Linked DNA regions of Homo sapiens. The protein of the gene in region 2 interacts with the protein of the main gene of each other region in a biochemical or structural test. Each region holds a gene or a part of one and is shown on either strand. Other genes may lie near its edges.

Evidence for each region.
Region 1: the proteins of CTSH (region 2) and CSTB form a complex in vitro, tested with the Homo sapiens proteins (one study listed by BioGRID).

What each region holds. Positions count from the first base shown.
Region 1 is NC_000021.9:43,772,426-43,783,325, forward strand, and holds CSTB (cystatin-B), read right to left. Parts: upstream 3,884-10,900; 5' UTR 3,845-3,883; coding exon 3,779-3,844; intron 2,335-3,778; coding exon 2,233-2,334; intron 1,906-2,232; coding exon 1,777-1,905; 3' UTR 1,525-1,776; downstream 1-1,524. UniProt on the Homo sapiens protein: This is an intracellular thiol proteinase inhibitor. Tightly binding reversible inhibitor of cathepsins L, H and B.
Region 2 is NC_000015.10:78,940,847-78,951,524, forward strand, and holds the start of CTSH (pro-cathepsin H isoform a preproprotein), read right to left. Parts: upstream 4,201-10,678; 5' UTR 4,136-4,200; coding exon 4,045-4,135; exon of another isoform or gene 3,932-4,044; intron 1-3,931. UniProt on the Homo sapiens protein: Important for the overall degradation of proteins in lysosomes.

The DNA.
Region 1 (10,900 bases), on a different chromosome or scaffold from region 2:
CTCAGCCTCCCAAAGTGTTGGGATTACAGGCGTGAGCCTGTAATTTTGATCCCTTTGTCAACTTGTATTTAAACCAGACCACAGCATTAATTACATATTTTATTTTCTGTTTTACACTGATATTTCCTGTTTACACACAAGCTTCTAACCCTAAATCCAGCTTCCCCCAACCCAGGTGCCCCATAGGAGTTCCTGGTCACTGCTCCTGCAGACAACCGCTCCCTTCCTGTTGGGGATGGCTCTCCCGCTGCGTGGTCCCCTAAACAGCCCCTCCCCCACCTGCCTTCCGCTGGAAATTCTCAAGTGGGAAATACAACGGGTTTTCCTTTCAATGCAAAACTGCTTGATTCTGTTTTGCATGTTATAAAAGCTTAGTCTCAGAGTTCATGTTAAGAGTGTAGAATACACACAGTCCATGATTCAGTTTTCTTTTTGGTTTTTTTTTGAGATAGGATCTCACTCTGTCACCCACCCAGGCTGGAGTGCAGAGGTACGATCTCGGCTCACTGCACCCACCACCTCCCGAGTCCAAGTGATCCTCCCGTCTCAGCCTCCCAAGTAGCTGGGATTACAGGCGCCTGCCACAACGCCCAGCTAATTTTTTTATTATTAGTAGAGACAGGGTTTCACCATGTGGGTCAGGCTGGCCTAGAACTCCTGACCTCAGAGTGATCCACCCACCTTGGCCTCCCAAAGTGTTGGGATTCTAGGTGTGAGCCACCGCGCCCGGCCTGATTCAGAATTTCCTAACATCACTTTCAAAGCTCTGTGGACTCACTGGTAGATCCCTCCTTAGTCTTCACAGATCCCCCACGATCTGGACAGCCTGAACCCTGCAGCTGCAGTTCTGGCATACGCTGCCGGACGCCTCGGAGGCAAAGCGCAGCTCAGGACACCCTCAGGAACACGTTCACATCATGACCCCGGTGCACAGAGACTTTCACCCCCAGTCTTAGCTCTTATCATGTATGATGCTCCCTCTTCTGTCCTATTTAACATAGAATCACAGTTGGGAAGGCACCGGACCAATTCCATGAATGGGAAGTAATCCCTGTTGAAAACTAGAAGGTGTTTTTAAAAACAGCCACGCTCTCCTAAGATACCTCCCTTTAGAAGCCCACGTGGCTCCATGGGAAGCCTCCCGCACCACAGGGCACTCAGTGAGGCTGCAGGCTATTCTGCACGTGCACGACACTGTGTGGCTGCCTCTCCGTACCAGAGCATAAAGTGCGTGAATGTATCTGAGATCTGGAGCCAGTTATGCTCTGGAATTGGATTTACTCACACTCTTTTATTTTATGGGAGAAACTGAAGCTTGGGGCCAGGACCTAAGAGTCAAAGCACCAACATGTAAAGAGTGGTGGTTAGGAACGCGGGCCGGAGTGGGCAGGTGTGAATCCTGGGTCCACCACCTGCTTGCTGTGTGAGCCAGGCAGTCTCTCCGCCCTCCATGCCCCCGAGGGGAAGGACCTGCCCGGGGTGGTTCAGACGAAGAAAAAAGTCTAAAACAAAGGAGGCAATCTGTAAGGATTTTAAAAATATATCTATTTTGAAAATATTCTGAAAGTAATTAAGATCACCTATTGGGAAGGAAAGAAATCAACACAATGAAATTTAGGAAGAGAAATGCAAAAGCAGCTGCAGAATCCTGCCCCTTCCACCCCAAGGGGCACAGCCCGGAGATGAAGCTTATTTTAGGATCACAAGTGCACGCTCTGGTAGACGGAGGATGACTTTGTCAGTCTTCTGGCTGAAGGGCCTTGTCCAAAGTCAGGATCAGAAATAGGTCAGCTCATCATGCTTGGCTTTGTTGGTCTGGTAGTTAGATAAGGTCAAGGGCTTGTTTTCATGAGGGAGAGATTGGAACACTCGCAGGTGTACGAAGTCCTCGTCGCCGACGTGCACCTGGGAAGAGAGCGGAGTGAGCGAAGCCTCTGATCCCAAGTCACCTTGCTGCGCCCCTCCAGGTCATTAGCAGCCAGCTGAAGACAATCTTGTCTTCTCCTGCATGTGCAGGGGATGCCTCACATCCCACACTTGTTTCCTTGGGGTTCTTAGCTCCCCAGAAGCCCTAGTCCTCCTGAAAGGCCGATGGACACACACAGTAGGATGCTTATCTCAGGGGGCAGCCACAGGGCGCCCCAGCACCTAAGACCACACAGCCCGGGCCTGCACAGGCGGTTTCCTACCAGCACCCGTTCGGGGCAGGCCCTCCTGAGGCCCACACTCTACCTTGATGAAGTAGTTTGTCCCCGCGACCACCTGGCTCTTGAATGACACGGCCTTAAACACAGGGAACTTCTTGTTTTCTTTCTCTTCAAGCTGGGACCTCACCTAGACAGAAGGGACAGAATGAGGATGTCTCAGTGGCTTCTTGGATTCCCTCCTGCTAGAGTAACTTGCACGCATGTGAGCACACACACGATTCTGACACTGGCTCTTCACACAATTGTCTCTTACAACTGAAGGGACATTTAAACTGTCAGCCTAATAATAAAGTAGAAAAAAACAGTTCCAGCTGGGTACGGTGGCTCAAGGATGTAATCCCAGAACTTTGGGAGGCTGAGGTGGGCGGATCACTTGAGGTCAGGAGTTTGAGACCAGCCTAGCCAAATGGCAAAACCCCGTTTCTACTAAAAATACAAAAATTAGCTGGGCGTGGTGGCGAGCACCTGCAATCCCAGCTACTCGGGAGGCTAAGGCAGGAGAATCCCTTGAACCTGGGAAGCGGAGGTTGCAGTGGGCCGAGATTGTGCCACTGCACTCCACCCTGGGCAAGAGTGAGACTGAGTCTCAAAAACAAAAAAAAAAAACACAGGCCTCAGCATCGCCTGGACCTGTTCTTGCTTGGGGCATCCCGTCGGTCACCAACCATGACAGCGAGGCGGGCCTGGCCTGTGCTCCACCGGAGGGGGCTTCTTGCACAGATGACCTGCTCATTTCAGCCCCTCCAGAATCTTCTGGCAGGCGCAGAGCAACAGGACGTCCATTTTACAGACGAGGAAACCGAGACACAGGGAAGGTTGCCATCTGCAACCCAGCCCGGTTTTTATCTTGTTTTTCTGTGTTTTAACTTTTTATTTAGACTTACAGTTTGAAACAGTGCTAGAATCGGAAGCATGTAAAGAAACCTGTGGACCTTTTATGCAGATACACTTAAGTTTTTAACCCATGTGCCTTATCACTGGGGACCTCTTGCACTCTCTCTCATGATTTTTTTCCCGAACTAGATGAGGATATTGACAAAGATTCTTGCTTGGCCAAACTGTAGTCGGGCTCCTGAAGCGCCTAGGCCACCTGCGCACTTCCTTGTAAAATCCACTTTTAGCAAGAAGCCTGGCTAAGTCAGTTTAGCCAGACCCTTCCCACCCGCTTGCTATCGGATCACCGTGGAGATCGGAGCCGGCTGCTCACCTGCGCCATCGCCGGCGACGCCCGATCACCCTGCCTGCCTGAAACCAGAAGCGCCTCATCCCTGGGGTTTCCTCTCAGAGACTGTCCATGCAGGGACCGCACCCTGCTCCGGGCTATCAATTCCCACTCGCCCTTGCTGTATTCAGCGGAGCCCAATGTCTCCCCAGCGGCGCCCCAGGCGCGGCCCCCCGCTGCTCACTCGCGCGCAGCGCCCGAGCGGAGGGAGGCCTCTCACGGCCACAGCCCGGGCCAGCCCAGGGGTGCGCAGCGGGGCCAAAGCGGCTTCTTTCGCTCCAGGAGCCGCGGCCGCGCCCTGAGGCTAAGGCAGGACTCCGGGCCGGCCCCGTCCCCGCGGCCCACCCACCTGGTCGGCGATGTGCTGGGTCTCGGCGGTGGCCGGCTGCGTGGCGGAGGGCGCCCCGCACATCATCTTGGCGGCGACGGAGGGAATCTGGCGAGGGGACTCGGCGAGGGGACGCGGCGGCTCCTCAGCCCAAGTAGGCGCTGGGGTCACGTGACGCGCGGGCGGAACCAAGGGGCGGGGAGGAGGCACTTTGGCTTCGGAGTCCCCTGCGGGGTCGCGGTGGCCCCGCAAGAAGGGACGCGCGGGGCGGGGCGCGGGGCGGGGCGCGGGGCGGGGAACCTGGCCACCACTCGCCGCAGGCTGGGTCTCCGCGCCCAGCGCTGGTGTCGGGAGGGAGCGCCCCCCTCCCGGGGCTGGTATCGTCTTTCCGGGCGCCGAGTCACACGGACCGGGGCGGGGGCGCGGCCGGGTGTCGCCGGTGGGTTGGGCGCGCAGGGTGGGACGATAGGGAAGGGGCAGTCGGAGTAGGCGCAATCCTGCAGGGTGGCGGGGTCCGGGCCGCGCACGAGGGAGGGCGGGGCGCAGCGCTGCAGGGGTCAGGGGTCAGGGGTCCCGGCCCCGCGGGAGCAGGTGTGCGGGCTGCAGTGGACATCACCGCTTGTGACCGAGAACACTGAAGGCTGAAGGGGGTGGACAGAGGGGCCCAGGGAGGGGGAGACGGCGCCCACGCGCTCCAGGCTGGGTGGGGGCAGGGGGTAGATCAGAGGGATGAGAAGAAGGCAGGGTTCTCTGGTGGAATTTGCGTTTTAGGATTTCTTTTCTTTCTTTCCTTTTCTTTTCTTTTTTTTTTTTTTTTTTTTTTTTTGAGACGGAGTCTCGCTCTGTCTCCCAGGCTGGAGTGCAGTGGCGCGATCTCGGCTTACTGCAGGCTCCGCCTCCCGGGTTCACGCCATTCTCCTGCCTCAGCCTCCCGAGTAGCTGGGACTACAGGCGCCCGCCACCACACCTGGCTAATTTTTGTATTTTTAGTAGAGACGGGGTTTCACTGTGTTAGCCAGGATGGTCTCGATCTCCTGACCTTGTGATCCACCCGCCTTGGCCTCCCAAAGTGCTGGGATTACAGGTGTGAGCCACTGCGCCCGGCCTTTTTTTTTTTTTTTTTGAGACGGAGTCTGGATCTGTCGCCTAGGCTGGAGTGCAGTGGCGCAATCTCGGCTCACTGCAAGCTCCGCCTCCGGGGTTCACACCATTCTCCTGCCTCGGCCTCCCGAGTAGCTGGGACTACAGGCGCGCGCCTTCATGCGCAGCTAATTTTTGTGTTTTTAGTAGAGACGGGGTTTCACCATATTGGCCAGGCTGGTCTCGAACTCCTGACCTCGTGATCCACCTGCCTCGGGCTCCCAAAGTGCTGGAATTACAGGCGTGAGCCACCGTACCTGACCTCTTTTCTTTCTTTCTTTTTTTTTTTTTTGACAGAGTCTTGCTCTGTTGGCCAGGCTGGGGTGCAGTGGCCTGATCACAACTCATTGCAGCCTGGACCTCCTGGGCTCAAGCGATCTTCCCACCTCAGCTGCTATAGTAGCTGGGACCACAGGCCCACCCTACCACACACATATATAGAGACAGAGAGTTTCACCATGTTACCCAGGCTGGTCTGGAACTTCTGAGCGATCTGTCCACCTCGGCCTCCCAAAGTGCTGGGATTATTGGCATAAACCACTGCACCCCTAATTTTTTTAAAAAGTGTTTTTGTAGAGATGGAGTCTCACTATATTGCCCAGGCTGGTCTTGAACTCCTAGGCTAAAATCGATCCATCCCCCAAAGTGCTGGGATGACAGGCTTGAGCCACCACACAGTCCCTTTGGTTTAGGGTTTCTGTTAGACTGGACCACCTGCGGAAGGGAAGGGTCGCTTGCCTTATTTGGGGTGGGGGTGGGGCCTGTGCTAGGCACCTGTTGGTGTGATTGACTCCTCAAAATGACCCAGAGCCCCCACCCAAGGGCTGTCCCTCAGGGGGACTGGTCCGCTCCTGCATGCAAGGCCCCAGCTGGAGCGGCCCATGAATGGGTTGTGGGGTCCTTTCTCTTACCTGCCAGGGCACAGCCTGGTCTGTCACTTCAGGGAAGGGCCCAAAGGGGTGGGCAGTCAGGTGTGGTTGAAGCCTGGGGGGAGCGGGGCAGAGCCCCCCATCATTGTTGAATGAGTGAAGGCAGAGTTGACCCCACGAAAATGGAAAACTCTTCTATGTGGAAAGCAAAGCATCAGGGGAAAACATAGTCAAGAAGAGAAAGGGATGTTCCCGCTGCTTGTACGGTTCCTGCAGCTCTGTTGGGCTTGTGCCGTGGAAGGTGTTGGCCTTGAGGCCTTTGTTCCTGAGGTGCTTCCTGGAGTCGGATCCTCACTCTCCTTGCTGGAGCTGGTCCCAGGTGCCTCCGTTTTACAAATAGGAGGATAACAGCTGTGGAAATAAAGCCCACGCAAATGAGAACAAAAGACGATTTATTCAGGACTTGCTGTACAAGGGAGTCGCCGTCCTCTCTTGTGTTGACCGAGATTCCTCAGCAGGCGGGGGCAGAGCCGGGGAAAAGCCTGGAATGGGAAGGGGAGGCTCAGGTGCACCTGAGGGAGGCTGTGGCCTGGGGAGACGGAAGAGGGGCTCACTAGGAGTGTGACCGTGACAGGTCCGTTGCCTAGGGTGCAGGAAGTCAGCACACTGCCACCCAGGGTTTGCAGCAGACAGTTTGAACCGCAAGGTTGTAACTGGGAGGAGACCTCAAATCCATCTCCCTGAGGAGTTTGGGGCTGGGAACTTTCAGGGGTTTGGAGTGGGCTGAGGGCGGGGGCTGCTGACCGGTGGAGAAGTGCAGGGTGAAGCAGGGTGGAGTCATGGGGTGGGGTTGAAGATGCTGTATTCTCATGCTGGTTCACTTCCTCTGTGGGGCTCTTCAAACTGGTTGGCCTGGAATTAAGGATCTGAAACGTCTTAAGGAATTCTTAAACAAAAGCCTCATGATTCTGAAGTCAGAGATTCCGTCCATAGGAACAGTAGGGGTGCAGATAGTCACTAGCGCTACGTGACTTTCAGTTAGAAGGAAGTGGGTTAAAGTGTAGCCTGACAAATGCTGAGTTATCCTTCTCTTCCTCCCTCCCCCCTCCCTCCCTCCCTCTCTCTCTCTCTTTTTCTCTCTCTCTGTCTCTTTCTCTCTTTCTTTCTTCAGAGTCTCGCTCTGTCATCCAGACTGGATGGAGTGCAGTGCCATGATCTTGGCTCACTGCTGCAACCACTGCCTCCCGGGTTCAAGCGATTCTCCTGCCTCAGCCTCCCGATTAGCTGGGATTACAGGTGCGTGCCACCAAGCCCAGCTAATTTTTGTATAGAGACGGGGTTTCACCATGTTAGCCAGGCTGGTCTTGAACTCCTGACCTCAGGTGATCCACCTGCCTCGGCCTCCCAAAGTGTTGGGATTACAGGCATGAGCCACCACACCCGGCCTGTAACTCTATTTCTGCTGAATGCTTAGTTATAATAAATATATAATAAATATAATATATAATATATAATAAATGTACAGAACCTGGGCAGAAAGCTTCTGGCTAGCCGTGAAAGTTGAGGTTTGGCCTCTGGACAGTCGCTGTGGCTCAGAGTTCTCTTCCCATATTTGGTCTGGCTGTTTTCTGTTTGTGTGTTCATTGTCTCGCAATGTCAAAGCTGCCTTCGTGCTGCAGGTGTGGGTGCAAGCAGATGTTTTCAAACCATCTTGGAGGGCAGGTGCTGGAGCCCAGCTGCCTGAGTGTGGACCCAGCCCTTCTTCGCACCTGCTGTGTGGTGAAGGACTAATTGCTGAAACTCTCTGTGCCTCTCTCTGTGGGGATAATGCTAATAACCAATCTCAAATTTTTTTTTAAAGGACTAAGTGAATTAGTAATTAAGTACAAAAAGCTTGGGACAGTGTCTGAGCTCCAGGGTGAGTTGTCAGTATTGTTATTATTGGTATGCTAATCAAAGCCAACCTAGAATTTGTATTACTTTTCCAATCAAAAGCCCTGGAATTTTTTATTTTATTTATTTATTTTTTTGAGACATGGTCTGATTCTGTTGCCCACACTGGAGTTCGGTGGCACGATCACAGCTCACTGCAGCCTGACCTCCCAGGCTCAAGCAATCTTCCCACCTCAGCCTCCTGAGTAGCTGGGGCCACAGGTGTGCACCACCATGCCTGGCTAATTTTTTTCATTTTTTGTAGAGCTGGAAGTCTCACTATGTTGCCCAGGCTAATCTTGAAATCCTGGGCCCAAGTGATCCTCCCACCTCTGAAACCACCTTTGCAAAAATTGTATCCATGAGAAAATGGTGGCAGTGGGAGAGATCTGAACCAGCTGACCCGGCTCTGGCCTTTAGCTTTTAAGCTGCCTTGATTATTCCTGGGTTTAGGCTGAGCTAACTTTGGCAGACATTTAGTTTACAGTTTAGATGATACTGGCCCTTCCCCAAAACTCAACCACCTTTGCAAAGCTCATGAGAGACTAGGCTAGGAGAAGGAGAGGAGCCTGGGTTCAGCTAAGGTGTAGACAAACAATTGCCAGCCATTATTCTGGAGGTCACAGGACAGCAACCTCCCCAGTTAGTCCTGCAGTTAATGTCGCTATTGTAGACTGGCCTTTTGAGATACTTTTGCAGGTTTTGGGCATGTCTGACACCCATGGCTCTACCTGGACCCACTGACCATGGCTCCTGTGGCCCCTCCCAGAAGCAACTCAGTGCAAAAGGACATCTTCCCATGATGTCATCTCCGACCCACTCGGTCAGCAGCAAGCACCCATTGCCCAGCCACACCAACCCCTTCCCCCAAACCACTTTTGAAAAACCCTAACCCACAGGCCTGCAATGAGGTTGATTTGAATAATTACTCCATCTCCCTTGTGGCATGGCCAGGCCAGCCTCACATCAATTCACTTTTTTTTTTTTTGAGACAGAGTCTCCCTCTGTCGCCCAGGCTGGAGTGCAGTGGTGCAATCTTGGCTCACTGCAACCTCTGCCTCCCGGGTTCAAGCGATTCTCCTGCCTCAGCCTCCCAAGTAAGTGTGATTATAGGCATGCATCCCCATGCCTGGCTAATTTTTGTATTTTTAGTAGAGACGAGGTTTCACCATGTTGGCCAGGCTGGTCTCAAAACTCCTGACCTCAGGTGATTCACCCCCCTTGGCTTCCCAAAGTGCTGGGATTATAGGTGTGAGCCACCGTGCCTGACAATTAACTTTCTTTTCTTCAGTGCCGTGGCCTTTGTACAGCAGGCAGGAAGAACCTGTTGGGCGGTCCCACCTTGGCCTCCCAAAGTGCTGGGATTACAGGCATGAGCCATCACGCCCAACCATGCTGACTTTTACCTCCCATTCTTTGATGCCAGAGTTTTTCATTTACTGAAGGCAAGGGGACAAGACCAAATACCTTGTCTCCCCACTTAGAGAATGAGAAAGAAAAAAATTATGAATATTTCTTATCTGAGGAAAATGAACCCTTTTTTTTTTTGAGATGGAGTCTCGCTCTTGTCACCAGGCTGGAGTGCAGTGGTGCGATCTTGGCTCACTGCAAGCTCCTCCTCCTGGGTTGACACCATTCTTCTGCTTCAGCCTCCCAAGTAGCTGAGACTACAGGCACCCGCCACCATGCCCGGCTAATTTTTTTTGTATTTTTAGTAGAGACAGGGTTTCACCATGTTGGCCAGAATGGTCTCGATCTCCTGACCTCGGGATCTGCCTGCCTTGGCCTCCCAAAGTGCTGGGATTACAGGAGTGAGCCACCAGGCCCGGCTGAAAGCGAACCCTTTTAAGTTATCAGGCCCAGAGAGAAATTAAAATGAGACAGTAATCACATGCTGTTTCTCCTAGAGCTGTGTCACCATCTCTGGAGACTGCTTCCTCTCACCACAAGTAGCTGTAAGTGAACCTAAGGATGCTGCACACAGGACACCGTAATCCCATACAATGTATAGCCAATCACTAATCAATATTATTTCTGTAAACCAATGAGAATTCCTGATAGACAATTTTGTATCAGCCTGCTCCTTGTCCCCCTTTTGTCTTTAAAAACCTGCTTGTCGGCTGGGCGTGATGGCTCACACCTACAATCCCAGCAGTTTGGGAGGCCAAAGCAGGTGGATCACGTTAGGTCAGGAGTTCGAGACCAGCCTGGCCAACATGATGGAACCCCGTCTCTATTAAAAATGCAAAAAAATTAGCTGAGCTTGGTGTCTGGCACCTGTAATCCCAGCTATCTGGGAGGCTGAGGCAGGAGAATCACTTGAACCTGGGATGCTGAGGTTGCAGCGAGCCGAGATTGTGCCACTGCACTCCAGCCTGGGCAACAGGAGTGAAACTCCGTCTAAAACAAACAAACAAACAAACAAACAAACAAAACCCTGCTGTCACGAAGGTCAAAAGCAGCTCTCACCAAGGCAATGTGGAAGTGTGTCTTGCTGTCCTCAACTTTAGCCCACGCACAGTCTCTACATCAATTCTGCCTCAGCTTCTTCCTTCAACAAGGAAGAAAGGAAGGAAGGACTGACAAGACCTGGGGGCACCTCAGAGACTTTGAACATCACTTACATTTGAAATCTGTATTCAGAAGAATCAAAGTTTGAAATCTAAACTATTTCAGAATCTCACTTTTGAAATATTGGATTTCCCCAGGGTCAGTAGAACCCTAGTGTGTTTGATTGCTTGATTTTTCTTCCATGTGCCTTCTTCCTCAGCATGCTGATCAGGTTTCTTGGGGGTTTTTTTGGGCTTCCTGTTAATACTCCTAAGCAGGTGACTCATACACCTGTTCCTGGTTCCAATCAGTTGTTTGTGTTTCCATTATGCAAGAGTTTCATCATGAGAATTTGTTGTTAATTAAATTCTAGACATCAGAGGGTCTCAGCCCAAGCAATAGGTGTTGGGGGCTGTGGGCACCAGGCGCTGCAGGGGGACTGTGGGCCCCATCCTGGCACCCTGTTCATGAACCTGCAGGTGATGCTGTGGGGAGCTCTGCCTGGTGCGAAAACTGCTGACGTGGTGGGCTAAGGCGGTCAAACCCCTCTGTTGCAGGATGTCCCAGTGGACCTCAGGTCCTTCCTGTTTGCTGAGCTTGTGTTTCAGCTGCCTTTCTTTCCCACTGCAAACCCTGCCTTCTTCCAAAAGCT
Region 2 (10,678 bases):
TACTCAGGAGGCTGAGGCAGGAGGATCGCTTGAACCTGAGAGGCGGAGGCTGCTGTGAGCCGAGATTGTGCCACTGCACCCCAGCCTGGGTGACAAGAGCGAAACTCCATCTCAAATAAAGAAAACAAAACAAAAAAGAGTCAGATATTATACAGAGTTTCTTTTTCTTGTTGAACACCTATCTCCATCCCCACCTGGCAGAATTTTATCCTAAGGGAACATACATTTTTATGCTTGATCACCTTCACATTCTTTTCTGCAACAACAACAAAAAGTTTAAATTTAAATTATTTATTTTGGCTGGGCGCCGTGGCTCATGCCTGTAATCCCAGCACTTTGGGAGGCTGAGGCAGGTGGATCATGAGGTCAGGAGTTTGAGACCAGCCTGGCCAACATGGTGAAACCTCATCTCTACTAAAAATACAAAAATAAGCCAGACGTGGTGGCATGCACCTGTAGTCCCAGCTACTTGGGAGGCTGAGGCAGAAGAATTGCTTGAACCTGGGAGGCAGAGGTTGCAGTAGCCAAGATCGTGCCACTGCACTCCAGCCTGGGCGACAAAGCGAGACTCTGTCTAAAAAAAAAAAAAAAAAAAAAAAAAAAATTAAATGTTTTTACTACCTGTGACCCATACATCTGTGAATATTATAAAAATTTATTCTGGAGCTGGGCGCGGTGGCTCATGCCTGTAATCCCAGCACTTTGAGAGGCTGAGACGGGCGGATCACGAGTTCAGAAGATCGAGACCATCCTGGCTAACACGGTGAAACCCCAACTCTACTAAAAATACAAAAAACAAATTAGCCGGGCGTGGTGGCGGGCGCCTGCAGTCCCAGCTACTCAGGAGGCTGAGGCAGGAGAATGGCGTGAACCCGGGAGGCGGGGCTTGCAGTGAGCCGAGATCACGCCACTGCACTCCAGCCTGGGCGACAGAATGAGACTCCGTCTCAAAAAAAAAAAAAAAAATTTATTCTGGATTGAGTAATCATAATTATTATTAGTGTCCCAACTGATTAAAACATTTCAAATGTATTATACATTATGAAAAGTAATTGTTAAACATCAAAAGTAAAATTGTATCAGAAATGCATCTCTTAATGTGATAAACAGTACTCTACTGCCCATCCCCCGCAATGGATTTATATTTTCATGAGTGAATATTGTTTGGTTGAGAAAAGGTTCAGCATTAATTCTGGTCTTATTTTTGTTTCTTATAGGTCAAAGGGCTGGGAAACCCTGCTCAAATAAGCAGCTGGGAATGGAGGCAGTTTTTAAGAGCAATGCCACTTAATTCTTCGCACTCCTTTCTGTGCATCCAATCCCATGGTGCTCTATCACTCAGCCCTCCCTCCCTCCCTTTCTTTCCTTCTTTTTTTTTTTTTTTTTTGAGAAGGAGGCTGGCTCTGTTGCCCAGGCTGGAGGGCAGTGGCACGATATCAGCTCACTGCAACCTCCACCTCCCTGGTTCAAGCAATTCTATCTCAGCCTCCCAAGTAGCTGGGATTACAGGTGCCCACCACCACGCCCGGCTAATTTTTATATTTTTAGTAGAGATGGGGTTTCACCATGTTAGCCAATCTGGTCTGAAACTTCTGACCTCAGGTGATCCACCCACCTTGGCCTACCAAAGTGCTGGGATCACAGGCGTGAGCCCCCACGCCTGGCCTCACTCAACATTATTTTTAAGACCTCATCAGTTGATATCCCCATGAAGTCCTCTCCTCTTCAATTCAGTTTCCTTGAGGAATTGAGAATGCCAGATATGAACGATTTATTACCGTTTTGTCTTTTTGTTTGCTGTCCCTATTGTTTTTATACCCATGGGTTCAGGTTCAGATTGAATGAGAGGAAAGAGGTTCCCCCTTGCCTTCAGGGGCTCTCTCCCAGTTTTAGCAAAGAGGACACTTGGAAATAAAAGGTCTGTAAATGGATTTCCAGAACACTCTCTGCCGGCATCACTTGAAATATCTTCCTGTTTCCCCAAGGATCCATACCTCCAGTGTGAAGATCACTACCACACAGCATTTAGATCTCCGTTTTTGGGTCTCGAACCTGTTCCAGAGACCAATCTATGGCCGTTTTCCCTGGGGAAAATGCACATTTCCTCAACATGGCTCCCTTTAGGGTTTCAGGGGATTCCAGATCTTGATTAAGGGCCCTGCTGCAGCTGAGGGCTTTAGAGGAAGACAGACCTCAACTCAGGACAAGAGTTGGAGGCAGGGTTTGAGTTTAGGACAATTGACTACCAGTTTGCCTCTGGAGAGATTATTCTGGGGCCAGAATAATCTGCTGGTGAACCGTGCCTTACCCTAAAATAGATCCATTCCAATCTAGTCAGGACTTTAAAAGTGCCATAATACCTTGCCTGGATTTACAGCAGGTTTCAGGAAAGTACAGTATTCCCCTGTTTGTTTGTTTGTTTGTTTTAGATGGAGTCTTACTCTGTCACCCAGGCTGGAGTGATCGCCACCTCTCAGTTTCAAGCGATTCTCCTGCCCCAGCCTCCTGAGTACCTGGGATTACAGGCACCTGGCTACCACACCCAGCTAATTTTTGTATTTTTAGTAGAGACAGGGTTTCACCATGTTGGCCAGGCTGCTCTCGAACTCCTGACCTAAAGTGATCCGACTGCCTCGGTCTCCCAAATTGCTGAGATTACAGGTGTGAGCCACCGCAGCCGGTCCCTGACTCCTGTTTTAGTACAGCTCCTGGGCTACAAACGGTTTCTTACAATTTTAAATGGTTAGAAGAAACATATTTCGTAGCACCCAAAAATCCCTTGAAACTGAAATTTCAGTGGCCATAAAAATCATTTATTAGAACCCAGTTACACTGACTCACTTACATACAATCTATGGTTGCTATCACACTACCATGGCAGAGTTAGTAGTTGCTACAGAGACCACCATAAAGCCTAAGTTATTTACCGTCTGGTCTTTCACAGAAAAAGTTTGCCAAGCCCTGCTCTGGAATTCAGACAGCCTCTCAGCGCCAGCCTTCTCCAGGCAGCCCTCGCTTGCGGCAGCTAGGTTTTCCTTAGGCGGGAACTGACCTGGAGCTGGGCGCCCACTGAGGTTTGCAAGGCTGGGGAGCTTTTTAAATAAATAGGTGGGAAGGAATGAGGCAACCCTCTGGCCCAGATTCAGCCTCAGTGATCTCTGTCCCATCCCCTGAGCCTCTAGCTGGGGGAAAGCCCTGTCCCGTTCCTCCAGAGCTCAGGGCACCCCCCCTCCCTAGGTTCTTGGCTCCTTGGGTTGTTTCTTGGCTACTTTTCTCGGTGAAGGGGGCAGGTGGTCTTTAAGTTCAGAGCCTGTGGGCTGAGGCTGGGACCAGGGACAGTAGGAAAGGAGGGAGGCAGTAGGGAAGAGCAGGCTCCTTGCCTTCAGCCAGGGGAGGTGCCTGAGCCCGGGCAGTAGACAGGATGCAAGGGCAGCACGAAGCTGGACCAGTCGCAGCCAATCTGGCCAACAAGAGGAGTCCTGGGGCTCCACCTGACGCCATGGGCCCTGGGGTGCTGTTAAAAGCGCTGTTGGTCTGAGTGCTTTCCCTGGTGCCGTTGCACAGGGATTCACTGTTCCAAACAGCCCGTCCAACCTACTCTACAGATGGGACTCCCAAGACACTACGGGGATCCCCTGTGTGCCAAGTCCCGGGGGAAGCTGCTAGAGAAGGCTGGGACGTCCTTGCTCACCTCTGGCAGGGACAGATCAGAGTCCTCTGTGTGACACTCTGTGTCCCCAGTTGAGGAAGGCGGAAGGAGCTGCGGGCTCCTTTGGTATTCTAGGCTGGAGAGCCACCTGGCTAGGTGGGACCCTGGACACTCAGCCCATCTGCTCCTCTGGTCCTACAAGCCGCCCACCCTCCGAGAACCCCCGCCTATAATGCAGTTTACCCCTCCCCGTGCCAGCACGCAGAGTTCCTGGCCTCTCACCGGGGAAAGCTCTGCCCCGTTCCTCCGGAGCCCAGTGCGCCCCTGGCCAAGTTCTCCCAGCGTCCACTCTAGGGCCTGCTAGCACCCTCTCGGGCGGCGCGCCCTCTGCGTACCTAAGGAGTTCACGCACAGTTCGGCGGCACCGCAGACGGGGACTCCCAGGAGCCAGGCCCCGGCGCAGAGCAGCGGCAGCGTGGCCCACATCGCAGCGCTGGCGGCTTGGCTCTTGCGCTCAGGGTCCGCGGAGGTGGCGGCCCAGAGCGTCAACTGGGAGCGCGGGGGGGGAGCGGCACGAGCGTGGAGGAGCGGCGGGAGCGCGAAGGGGCGGAGCGAGCGCGGGGCGGAGCGAGCGCGGGGCGGGGTGGGCGGTACTCCCCCGAGGCCGGGCTCGCGGGAGGGGGCGGCGCCGACTAACTCGCCAGCTCTAGTTCACCTGTCGGCCGGCCGCGTCGCTCCCTTATCTCCTCTGGGAGGAAGGGCTTATCTGGGTATCAGGCCTGGCTGAGTCCTGGATCTGCCTGGACTGGCTGGCACCGCGCGGGGAGGTCTCAGCCTGGCCTCTCCCTCTCCCAGCCTGTCGCCATCCCCACGTCCCCCATCTCCCTGCGTGTCCCCACCTCGCACCCCCCCATCTCCCTGCCTATCCCCAACTCGCACCCCTCATGTCCCTTCCTGTCCCCACCTCACACCATGTCCCTGCCTGTCTTCACCTTGCACCCTCCATCTCCCTGCCTGTCCCCACCTCGCTCCCCCTATGTCCCTGCCTGTCTCCACCTCACACCCCCATCTCCCTGAATGTGCCCACCTCCCACCCCCTATGTCCCTGCCTGTCCCCACCTCCCACCCCCATGTCCCTGCCTGTCCCCACCTCGCACCCCCATGTCCCTGCTTATCCCCACCTCGCACCCCCCCATCTCCCTGCCTGTCCCCAACTCACACCCCCCATCTCCCTGCCTGTCCCCACCTCAGACTCCCCATGTCCCTGCCTGTCTCCACCTCACACCCTTATGTCCCTGCCTGTCCCCACCTCGCACGCCCCACGTCCCTGCCTGTCCCCACCTCGCACTCCCCATGTCCCTGCTTGTCCCCACCTCGCACCCCCCATCTCCCTGCCTGTCCCCACCTCACACCCCCCATGTCCCTGCCTGTCTCCACCTCACAGCCTTATGTCCCTTCCTGTCCCCACCTCGCACCCCCCATCTCCCTGCCTATCCCCACCATACCCCTATGTCCCTGCCTGTCCCCACCTCACACCCCCATGTCTCTGCCTGTCCCCACCTCACACCCCCATATCCCTGCCAGTCCCCACCTCACATCCCCCCATCTTCCTGCATTTCCCCACCTCACACCCCTATGTCCCTGCCTGTCCCCGCCTTGCACCTCCCATCTTCCTGCCTGTCCCCACCTCACACCCCCTCATGTCCCTGCGTGTCTCCACCTTGCACCCCCATCTCCCTGCCTGTCCCCACCTCATACCCCCCATGTCCCTGTGTGTCTCCACCTCAGACTTTCCCCCACACTCCCCACGTCTCCCTGCCCTGGTTAACCACATTTCCCTGGCTTCCCTTTTGCTTGGAGTGGACTTACAACTGAAGAAGCTAGACGACCTCCTTGTGAATTGTTTTGCCCCCTCAACAGACATTTTAGTCTTTCTGCTGAGGAAGCTACATTAAGAGCTGTAGGGCCATTCTCTGTAGTTTGCAAAGCTAAAGAAGATGGTATGTAAGGGTCTGGGTGTGAGACAGACAGAAGAACGTGCGTTCCAGGCTGAGGAGGCCGGTGCTGTCACTGCTTTGGGTGAGGAGAGGGTGATTCAGACCAGCCTGTGCCGTAGCCTCAAATGCCCAGTGATGCCCTGTTCTTCACTTACATCATCACCTTGCAAAGTGGCATGTTGTTGACCCCCCATTTTACAGATGAGGAAACTGAGGCCACAAGAGTAGATGGTAACTTTCCCAGTCTGTGCGCAGAGAGTGTCTGAACCCAGCCTTGACCTACTGCAGTGCTCTCTGCTCTGGGCTTGCTCTTTCTCTGTCTCTTCATTTTTAAATTTTTATTTATTTATTTTGAGACAGGGCCTGGCTCTCTTGCCACCCAGGTTGGAGTTCAGTGGCATCATCACAGTTCACTGCAGCCTTGGCCTCCCAGGCTCAGGAGATCCTCCCACATCAGCCTTTTGAGTAGCTGGGACCACAGGCTCGTACCATCACGCCCAGCTAGTTTTTTTGTATTTTTAGTAGAGATGGGGTCTCAAACTCCTGGGCTCAAGTGATCCTCCTGCCTCAGCCTCCCAGAGTGCTAGGATTAGAGATGTGAGCCTCTGTGCCCTTCCCTCTCTTTTTAAAAATGCATCTTTCCAACCTGTGAGTAGAGCCAGATCTGAGCTCTCTCGTGGCCTCCCTCCGACTGGTGTTTCATCCCCTGATGTTCTAGCCCAGACTCTGTGTCTCAGGCACCTGGGGAAGCAGATTCCTGGACTTCTTTCCTGGGATATGACCTACTGGGTCTGGGTAGGGCTCAGAAATCTGCATTTAAAGAGCCTCCCCCACAGTCTCTCTCCTCTCCTGTGGCCAGTGTGGCATGTGGACATGGAATCTCCATGGAACCAGGGTGAGCTCCAGCAGGCACCTTTTTTCAGATAAAGCAGATCTTCCTTAGGTTGTGACTCCATCTCTGTCTGGATGCCCCTCTCTGGGTGTGACCAGTCTCTCTGTGCTTTGAGGCATATGTCTCAGAAAAGACCCTGCTCGGTTACTATTTGGAACAGAAGTCGCTGGCCTTGGGATAAAGGTGTCCTTCTAGGCAGATGTCCTGCCCTTCATGTGTACCTGGAATGCTTCACCCCTCTGCCCATCCCAGCCACTTGGAGGATGTCAGAATTGAAAGCTCTGCATGCTAGACCTCAGGCCCCAGAGCTGCCTCCTGCGCTAGGTCCCTGGTGACCCTCCTTTGTGGATCGTTCCAGCAGGCCAGGGCCCCTGGGTGCTGAGATGTGGAGGGCACTGACCTGGTTAATTGGAGACCAATGTTTGGTTCTAGCCCTACTACAGATTCACTGTGTGACCTAAGCAAATGGTTCCCCCCCGCCTCCCCCCCACCAGCCTCAGTTTCCTCATCTGTAAAATGGAGCAAGTATCCCTGCTTTCCAGGGTAGTTAGATACGGTCATGCAGTTTAAATATAATTATAGGTAAAATACCTGGCCCTGAGCATGGCACCAGAATAGAGACTCCCCCCATGCATGGGCTTTTCTGATGCTCCGTTGTGTGCTTTTTATCCTTTGCTACCTGCACACACTTTTCATGGTGAGTTTGTCTGACCCTCTGGCTCCAGCTGGCTGGAGGGCTTCTCCGTGGTTCCAGTCCTCTACACCTCTACAGAAATGAGGCTGAGGACTGCAGCTGCTGGCACAGTCTTGGCTGGACAGGGCTGGTAGGCAGAACTCGAAAGCTTCCTATTCACTCAAGCACAATCTAGCGACTGCCATGGAGGACTTTGCGGATGGAATCAACGTTTGAATCAGCTGACTTTAAATAGGATTATCCTGGGTTATCCGAGGGGCCCTGTGGAATCATGTGGGCCTTTAGAAGCAGAAGAGCATAGGAGAAGAGTCGGAGAGAGGGGGCAGAAGGAGAGGTTGGAGAAGTCAGAGGGGGGATGAGGCAGGTGGGGTCAGAGAGCGCTGAATCATGAGAAGGACTCTATCTGCCACTGCTGGCTTTGAAGAGGGCCAAAGCCAAGGTACACAGGCAACCTATAGAAGCTGGCCGTAGTGACAGCCAGCAAGGAAACCAGGACCTCAGCCCTTCACCAGCATGGAACTGCATTCTGCCAGCCCTCTGAATGAGCTTGGAAGCAGATTCTCCCCCAGACCCTCCAGGGAACCAACCAAGTCCACATGGACTTCTGACTTACAGAACTTCCGTAGAGTACATTTGTGCTATTATAAGCCTCTAAGTTTGTGGTAATTAGAACACAACAATAGGAAGAAACCAATACACCAGATGAAACACCCAAACTGGCAGGTGCCTCATTGGTCTGAAGGTCTGGTGCATATGGGGGCTGAGAGGCCAAGGGCAAAGAACAGGCCTATCCATGGTCAGAGTCATGACCTCTTGTGGGGATGTGTTGGACCCTGCTCCAAGTGCCTCACACAAATAAACTTTGTGACTCTTCACCTTTTATTTTATTTTTATTTAGTTTTTTTGGAGACAGAGTCTCGCTCTGTCGCCCAGGCTGGAGTGCAATGGCACGATCTCGGCTCACTGCAACCTCCGCCTCCCCAGTTCAAGCAATTCTCCTGCTTCAGCCTCCTAAGTGGCTGGGATTACAGGTGCCCACCACCACGCCCAGCTAATTTTTTGTATCTTAGTGGAGACAGGGTTTCTCCATGGTGCCCAGGCGGGTCTCAAACTCCTGAGCTCCGGCAACCCACCTGCCTCGGCCTCCCAAAGTGCTAGGATTATAGGCCTGAGCCACCGTATCAGCAGAATCTTCACTTCTTAATCCCCATTGTACGGATGGGGTAATTGAGGCACTTACGTACATTGTCTAAGGCCACACAAGTAAGTAAGAGTGGGATTTGAACCCCTGCTATGAACCCCTGGCTACCTGAGTCCAGAGTTCTCCACTAAAGCATTTGCCCCATGGGAACAAGTGATGACGATGAGTCCTGAGGCTTGCCTACCTACCTGAACTTCCAGGTCTAGAGTTCCCAGAAACATCAATAGGAGTCCGCTAACCACAGGTCCTGGAATCTGCAGTCACTGCCTGCATGCAGAATGCCTCCTGCATGAATGTTCTAGTCATTGTTACCTGCCCCACATCCATTTATTCTTTTCCTTAAGCTGAATCTGGGGATAACAAAAAGGATAACACAACTTTATCACCCCCCTCCCCCACCCCCCACAACTGTTAACTACAGGTTTGACTGGTTTTCCAGATCACCTGTTAGAGCCAACATTGTAGCAGACAAGCTGGGCCTTTTGCCACATTCATTTTCTTACCATGGTAATATAATAGCCACCATTCACATGGGTTTTGTTATTTACTGCTCATAACAACCCTGTGAAGGCCCTTATGAGCATACACATACTCAATTTTCAGATGAAGAGATTGAGACTTGGAGAAGTTAAGTAGGCCTGCTGGTAAGAGGTGGGACTCCTTCCACATCCACAGGCTGATTTTATATGGTAGGTCGGTAGGGGATTGGCTCAGTGGTTGGGTGCCTGGCTATGTGTTTGGATGCATGTGTGGATGAATGAATAGAAGAAGGGATGGCTGGATAGACGGCTCTGTCCATGGCAAGATGGACCAACAGCTGTATTGTTGGATGGATGGGTGGAAGGAGGGATGAATGGATGCAGGGATGAGTGACCAAAGTTTGTAGAGTGGAAAAGGTAACGAATACAGTAGGGGTGTAAGTCCGCATCAAGGAGGTTCAGCCACCAAAGGAGCTTCAGCTGCCTTGTAATGTGAATTTGAACTCTTGTTAGTTCTGTTGGCCAGGAGACATCCTGCCTAGCCACCTTGATTACTTCCCTTGGCTGTGGGTCAGAGAATTCCAGCCTGAAAAATGTCCATTGACTGAATGAGAAGGCACTGTTTGTCCCCTGGAAAGCCAGAGAACATGGAGAACACCACCCCTTTGGCCAAACCCTGGAGATGCTGCACCCACAGCCAAGAAAAGTGTGGAGACCTGCAGAAAAGTCCAGAAGCTGGTGTTTCATCACAGCCAGGATCAGGGTGAAGCAGCGAGGTTATGCTGTGCAAGTCCAAAGGTCGATTATTTATTTATTTATTTTCGAGACGGAGTTTCACTCTTGTTGCCCAGGCTGTAGTACAATGGTGCTATCTCGGCTCATTGCAACCTCCGCCTCCCAGGTTCAAGCAATTCTCTCGTCTCAGCCTCCTGAGTAGCTGGGATTACAGGCACCCGCCACCACGCCTGGCTAATTTTTGTATTTTTAGTAGAGACGGGGTTTCACCATGTTGGCCAGGCTGTTCTCAAACTCCTGACCTCAGGTGATCCGCCCGCCTCGGCCTCCCAAAGTGCTGGGATTGCAGGCGCGAGCGACTGCCTGATCCCATATTTATTTTTAAAACGTGACATTTTGCTCACCATGTGTTTTTTGCATTAACTTTTCATTTTAAAACATTGCATTCAAGTATTATTTATCTTGATTACTGCATTTTTGGACACTCCCTGACATTTTGCACCTCAGTAGTATGCCTCACTGCTCTCGCCCTAGTCCTGGCCCTGTAACAGAGTACTCATTTCTGGACTTTTCTGCAAGCTGCAAACTCCCGTGCAGTGTGAGCTTATCCCAGCTTAGTTGGCATAATTCCTACCTCTAGGGGAAGTTGGAGTTCAGAGGCAGGAGTTCTGAATCCCACAGTTACAGCCTCGTTGTTTCTTCTCCAGGGCCTCCTTCAGTCTCTCTTTGTTCACAAATTTTCACAGCCTATACTCCTTTGCTTTGCACTTAGGACCCTCTGTGATTTTTCCTTATCCTGCTTGTAATGCCCACCACCACTGCACTCAGCATCAGTTCACAGGTCTACTTCCTGTCCTGGACACAGCCCCATCCCAATTCTTCTGCCCACCTCTCCTCTTTCTTAGCCACACCGTCCCCAACCCATTCCAAATTTCACCCCAGTTGAATTTTTCCTCTACGGAAACTTCCTCTTCCTGAACTCCTGAATTAATAATCTGCACCACACACTCACGTTTAATCCTTTATGACTT